Homo sapiens: one gene and its partner. The protein of the gene in region 1 purifies or fractionates together with the protein of each later gene. This does not show direct contact. Each region holds a gene or a part of one and is shown in the gene's direction. Other genes may lie near its edges.

Region 1 (3,592 bases):
GCTGTCTCCAAGACATTAAAATTGATTGGAATCACATTACCCTGGAGAACATCTCGTCTGGCTCATCATTAAATGTCAAGGCAGGCTGTGTGAGAAAGGATTGGTGTGAAAGCCAACCTTGTCAAAGCAGAGGACGCTGCATCAACTTGTGGCTGAGTTACCAGTGTGACTGCCACAGGCCCTATGAAGGCCCCAACTGTCTGAGAGGTGAGAGAAAGCTGAGTGCTATGGCTAGGAGTGCCATGCCTCAGAGCAGAGCAGAAACAGCAAAAACAGCCAGACTGCTTCTGCCTGCTATGAAACATAATGACCCCACAAGACTTCTGCTGCTGGTTGCCCACTGATGAGAAAGAAAAGAAGAGGGCAGTGATGTGCGTTAATTAATTTTGAGTGGATTCATAGGACATCAGTTTCACTCATACAGAGAAGTAAAAAAAATAAGCAGATAGCTCTTTTCCAAAGAGGTTTTCATCTTTGTGTTTGCAAAATGCTACTGCAATTTTACCATTGGTCACATATCAGAAATTTATTGTAAATCTTATTTGAAAGAGAAATAATCTTTTGAAAAAAAAAAACCTTAGACATAAAATTTGTCAGTGCCACATACTAGCATGATATCTTGTGCATAGTAAATTCTCGGTAAATATTCATTTCCTTGCTCTCCTTTCCATGCAATTCACACTTGCTCCACAATCATAATTAAGCATAGCGTTTTTATAAAACGCCAATTTTATTCAAAGGTATCTTTTCCAAGGTTGCCCTGGAGAAGACAGATAATATACTAGGTGTCTTAAGAAAAAAAAAAAAGAAAAAAAAATGTGGAAAGTAACAATAGTAGAACTTGGTAGATGCCATAAACTAATTGATCTAATTTCTCTAGTAAACCACAGTTTGCAAAGTATTTCAAAATCCTTAACTTCCAACATTGTTCTAGAGATTGCTGTTGATAGTGATCAATATATACCTGTTTCTTTTTATTATTATTATCATACATTGAAAAAGTCTGAGAGGTAATTGTAACGGACTGCTTTGAAGTTCAGCTGTAATTTACCCCAAGATTTTAGAGTAACTTGAAGTAGGACAACATCTGGTAAGTAGTCTTCTCTGCTTTATATGAAGTAAAATTAAAACCAGTCTTAGCCTATACTCTATTCCATGTTCAAATGTCTAAGAATTATTAGAAACTACTCAAGGGTTTCCCCCGACCACAATATTCATTACAAATCACGGACCTGTTTGACAATGAAGTATGGTATCTACTAGCTCTACGTAATATTTTAAGTAGAATGGCAAGTTGTTTTGTGATTTTTTTTAAGGAGAAAAAGGGAAATTATGCTGAGGCAATGTTCACTTTTTGAAGAAAAATTTAATTGACCTAAGGCAATATTTTTACTACATATACAAAATAACAAACAGATGCTGACTCATTTTGACTGGCTTCCAGATGCAGTGACCCATGAGGTTAATACTGACCATGGTGATGTTAACTGTCCTAGTAAATAGATTCAAGAGATGCCAATCCACTGGGTTCTGGTTTTCTTTATTTTATCCAACTTGGAAAACCATGAACTTTTCAAACCAAGTTCCTGAATTGGTTACCCTTCCCCCACTTCTCCCAGTTTCCTTATACTCCAACATTATTTGAAACTGCTTAACCCTCAAGAAAATATTTGACTTCAAAAGATCACTTTACAGACAGAGAGAGTTCTGTGAAATCTTTTCTTTCTGAAAATTCTTGGTATAAATTTAAGGAAAATTATATTTTTCATATCACCTCTTCATTATAAAATTAAAATATTCTGTATTTTCTGTTATCTTGAAGGAATGTTTCCTGGAGAGTTTATTCCCACTAAAAACTGCTTTTAAGTGGTAATGAGAACATGGAGTCTTTCTGCTACTGTACATATACGTGCAAGAGGGAGGAGACATACTAAAAAGCACAAAGGCAAACTTCAGCCCATTCATGACTTGCACTCATATTTGGCTCAATGTTTTCCAACCATGGTATACATTTTAATGAACAAGGAGACTGGATAGAGGATTTTGGTGGCTGACTAAACACAAAAGACATAGTGATTTCCAATGTATCAAGGTTGATCTTTTTTAAATAATCTAATTTCTCAACAGAAAGAGTGCTGAAAAGGATTTAACTAAGCTTAGGTCACAGAAGTGTCCATAAGGTTCTCTCAGCATATCTTGTGTTGACTGTTTGTAAGAACATGCAGCATTCAAGATACTACTACTCAGAATAAATGGCATCACCTACCTCTTGCTCTCTGGTGAACATTTGACTTACAAAAGCAATTTACATATCTCTTCTTTTCAGCCATATACCTAGATTTTGAGAATTTTATTCTCTTAGAATTATAGTTTCCTAGATATAGAAAAAGATTCATTCTATGACTGAATTTTTAACACAATTGTACCTGCCAAATGTAGTGGCTCAAATCTCTGCTCAAACACCTTCACAAATAGAGAGATCACTCACTCCATCTTGCCAAAAATTGCCCAAAAGTTATTTCCTTATATTGAAATAGAATAGGATTTGCCCGTAGCTTTCCTTCATTGACCTTGTTGCATTTCTGGAACACATGCAAATAAAAATCTCAACTTGCCTGCTGCTTGAGAATACTTAATATCTGAAGAAAAGTATCTCGAGCCATCTAAACCATCACTTCTATTCAGGCTAAACATCCTGTTTCTTCTAATGTTTGCCATATGACATAGTTTTCCGACACTTCATCAGCTGCTTGCAGGTTTTGGAATATATTTGCTTCTTTGTATTCCTTCTAAGATGTGATGTCTGTATGTGCTGGATGATACAGTGACACACAGGGCCATAACCTCCCTTATTCTAGATAATGTGCTTCTGTTTTTCAGCTTAATACAACATTGACTTTTTGGCAGCCACACTTCGTGATTGCGTCACTTTGTATCATTGTCACTCATGATGCCACATAGTCCTGTTTCTCCCACTCTAATCTTATAAACGCACATTTAGATCGAAGTGGCTCTTATTTATTCTTGTTAAATTTCATCTTGTTGTATTCCATCAATCATTAAAGCTTGCCAAAATTGTTTTTTATCTGTATGTGTTGTTCCTCTTCATGACATGTCAACCACTTGTATGAGTATCACCCTTCCAAATCCACAGCCAAGTCATATGTCTTCAGGTGTTTCTAAAGTCATGTAGCAAATCACACATGCTGATTAGTTGCTTGTGATTTCTGAGAAATAGGATTGCTGAAGAATCAGGCTTCTGAGAAAAAAAAATACTCTGCATTTTGGCTTTTAATCCAGATCCACAAAGTGATGCTGAAGGCATCCTGGGATGACCAGCAGGCACCCCGCTACCCCTGAGGTTGAGTGATTCTGGGCATATCTTCAAACCTCAGGGGCTTCAAGGGCCAAATTTTCTTATTAAGCATTTTATCTCATATGAAAGTGCTGCAGTGTATTCAGAGATGTTAACCTCTTCAAAGGGGTTATTTTATCTAACAGTACACTTTTGAAAGCTACCGGTAGTTGCCTGGAGCAGGTGGTCTCCAAATGCAGATTCAAAATGCAATGTTCCTGTATTAAATCAAGTCAG
Region 2 (3,592 bases), on another chromosome or scaffold:
CCCGCTGAGCCTCGTTTTCCTCATTTTCCAAGTGGGAATGATACCAGGACTGAGATTGTATCCTATCTAAGCATAGTGCCTGACAAGTGTTCTCAGCTACTTCTCAGCACTGCTCCCCACCCTGCACCATGTATTGCATGATACATTGCCTTCTTTTTATGCAAGAGCAGCTGAGTACCTAGATTCAGGGAATTTCAGTTAGACTGAATGGAGCTATTTTCATCCATTTCCTATTACGTTTTGGTTTATATAGGTTTTTTTGTTTGTTTGTTTTGAGACAGAGTCCTTGCTCTGTCGCCCAGGCTGGAGAGCAGTTGATGCAGGATTTTTCTCAACCCCTTTGTCATACTTGCGACAGAGGTGCGCTGCTTACTTGGCCACTGTGCTCAACTGTTTGCGGGAGGGAGCACATGAACGAGCAATTGCAGGATCCATGCAGCGGCACCCAGGTGGGGGTGCCTGCGACTCCAAAGCCCCTGAGGGCATGTTAGAGTGCTCTCTTAGTTCTGCCGTCCACGGACAGCGGTGTGTTATCAGCTCAGTTGGCCCCTTGCCTCATAGTGTGGGGTAGCTGCCCTCCGCCAGTGAGGGCAAAGGGCCAGTGTAACAGCCTTATTTTGGGTACCCACACTCGGTGTGTCCCGAGCTCTTGTCCAGTGTTCAAGAAGAATGAGGTCACCTGGACACTTGAAGGATGGTGAAGGCAGAGAGTTTTATTAAGTGATGGAAATGGCTCTCAGCAGAGAGGGGAACTGGAGTGGGGGTGGGACGGGTAGGTAATCTTCCCCTGAAGTCCGGCCATCTCTTCCCTGAAGTTAAGCCATCTCTCCTCCGAAGTCCAGTCATCCCTTTGAAGTCAAGTTGCCTCTCTCCCCTCTACTACCTGGGTCTGGAGTCTTTAAAGGCACAACATGGGAGGAGTGGGCAGGGTGGGCTGTGGGTAGTTTTGGAAAAGGCAACAATCGATTGGTAAAAAGACATTATTTAGAAAGAACCAGTTGGGCTGGGCGTGGTGGCTCATGCCTGTAATCCCAGCACTTTGGGAGGCTGAGGTGGGCAGATCACGAGGTCAGAAGATCAAGACCATCCTGACCAACATGGTGAAACCCCATCTCTACTAAAAATACAAAAAAATTAGCTGGGTGTGGTGGTGCGCACCTGTAGTCCCAGCTACTCAGGAGGCTGAGGCAGTAGAATCACTTGAATCCAGGAGGCGGAGGTTGCAGTGAGCCGAGATTGCGCCACTGCACTCCAGCCTGGCGACAGAGTGAGACTCCATCTCAAAAAAAAAGAAAGAAAGAACCAATTGGGAGAGAGTGGGCAAGCAGGAATAGAAGTTCTCACTTTGGCCTGTGGGTTTCAGGCTTTTCAGCTCAAAGGTTGGGTTTCACTGGGGACCCACCCTTGTCTGCCTAGAATTTCTCTGCCTCCTGCCTCTATCACAGCGGCGCGATCTTGGCTTACTGCAATCTCTGCTGCCCGCGTTCAAGTGATTCTCGCGCCTCAGCCTCTTGAGTAGCTGGGATTACAGGTGTGAGCCAGGGTGTCTGGCTGTGTTTTATATATTAATAGTTTTTAATCTTATGTAGTACCTTTCATACTATCCTGATAGTACAACCAGTGTTTCTATTTTATTTTATAGGGATGACATTTTAACTATTTAAAAATGTTAAAAAATTGTTTTTAAAAACCACCAAAATATTATTTGACTAAAACAACTAAAGAAAATTAATGATATATAACAGTCTGTCACTTTCCAAATATAAAGTGTCTAATTTATTACTTTGTTATCTCACATTACAGACAATGTGCCCTGTGTGTCTAGATCGTCTGAAGAATATGATTTTCCTTTGTGGTCACGGAACCTGTCAACTCTGTGGAGACCGCATGAGTGAATGTCCTATCTGTCGCAAGGCTATTGAACGAAGGATTCTTTTGTATTAACTAAGACACATGGTGTATTTTGTTAGCTAATGTATCTAGTCATGAGATCTTAATAGGCTTTTGATCTAGTTGGAAGTTCTGATGAGTTAATTTCTAATATCATAGTTTCTTTACTAGAGTATAATTGGGCTGTAAATGTACCAGAACAAAAAACCCTACAAAATGGTGTTGGAAATTGTGTTTTTTGTTTTTGTTTTAAATTTGAAACATCAAATTCATGTAACTCATAGGATAATTTACCTTTGGCTTCTAAGAGGAAAGTCCTTTAAGGATATCCTTTTTTAAAAAATTGCATTTTTCTCTTATAATTTGTAAATTTGTTGGATCTCAAAAGACATAATTCTTTGTGATCAGTTATCCTTCATTTCATCGTGGTTTTACACAGTGAGTTGATAACAGGTTCTCTGAGAAGTCATGCATCAAATAAAAGAGGCAGGTCAAACAATTATGTCACATGGTAAATTATAAAATGACAGTACAAGTTCCAGATAGTTAAGGGAATACCGAAGGGATGATTCTTTTTTTAAGATAACAGGAAGTTACCCACATGTTTGTTTCTGAATTCTTAGAGTAAATGGAAGCATAGAATGAGGGAATAATGACTTTGCATTTCTCTTGTTTTCTAGATTCAAAAGGAACATTGTTTAACTTGAATCAGATTACCAGTTTCAAGGTGACTGATAGACAAGAAAAGGAAAAATAAGCAATAATAGTGGGCAACTGAAGAGAAAAAAAAAACGAGTATCTATTAACTGGCCACTAACAGTTGCCTTTCTTACATTAATTTATACACTATTTTGTTCAGCCAGTGTTTTTAAAAAAAATCTATGAAAAGTGTACTTCCGGTTTTCTGTGATTACTTATCTGGGCTTGATCTGACCAGTGAAATGACATTGCCCTATTTGGACCTCTGAGGTTCTATTTAGCTTTGCAGATGTACATAGTATCCCAGTGATCTGCAAAATTAATGCCTTTTCCAAGAAAAAATCTTTTCTTCTCTGTATCAGTTAATTCTGACAGTGTTAGTGATTCTGTCTTCATTATAGGCCTTATTTCCATTATCTCTTTCTTTATAGTATTTTTTGTTATAAAGAAAACAGTCTTTCTGTGTATACCTACGGATGAGGGTATTATTTAAACTGCCAACAATATCCAAGACATGGTCAATAACCTAATTATAAATACTTTAGAAAGAGTGACCAGGACATGTATAGAAATGTCTGCTTACCTGTAGACTTTAAAAACAAACAAAATTTTTGGAGCATTTAATCATTTTTTTTCTCCTTTTATCTCCTTTGTAATCTTATTGTCTCCTGAGTAAATATACACATAAATGTTTGGGGATTCATTGCTGCTAGATTATATCAGGTGTTTACATAGTGTCTACTATATGCTGTTGATAAGCTTTTTCCTAAAAATAGTTATCCTCTTTTGTAGTTTTTTTCCCTCCTTTAAATCTGGCTAGCTTTTCTTACTTCAGTTTTTATAGAACACCAACTAAATTTGAAAGTATGAAGTCTCTAGCCCTCTTACACTGTTTCTGGCTGTTTAATCCTTGCTGCCTTTGCAAGTCCTGGTGAAAGCAATGGGGAGCTTTGCTGGCTGGTTTTGTAGTCTCAACAATTCCATGTCTGTGTTTAGCTGAGTA

The links. The genes of interacting proteins can lie anywhere in the genome.
Region 2: the proteins of CRB1 (region 1) and MIB1 purify together in Homo sapiens (affinity purification with western blotting, with the first as the bait; one study listed by BioGRID). This does not show direct contact.

Annotation. Positions count from the first base shown.
Region 1 is NC_000001.11:197,421,750-197,425,341, forward strand, and holds part of CRB1 (protein crumbs homolog 1 isoform 1 precursor), read left to right. Parts: coding exon 1-207; intron 208-3,592. UniProt on the Homo sapiens protein: Plays a role in photoreceptor morphogenesis in the retina. May maintain cell polarization and adhesion.
Region 2 is NC_000018.10:21,862,723-21,866,314, forward strand, and holds part of MIB1 (E3 ubiquitin-protein ligase MIB1), read left to right. Parts: intron 1-1,803; coding exon 1,804-1,944; 3' UTR 1,945-3,592. UniProt on the Homo sapiens protein: E3 ubiquitin-protein ligase that mediates ubiquitination of Delta receptors, which act as ligands of Notch proteins.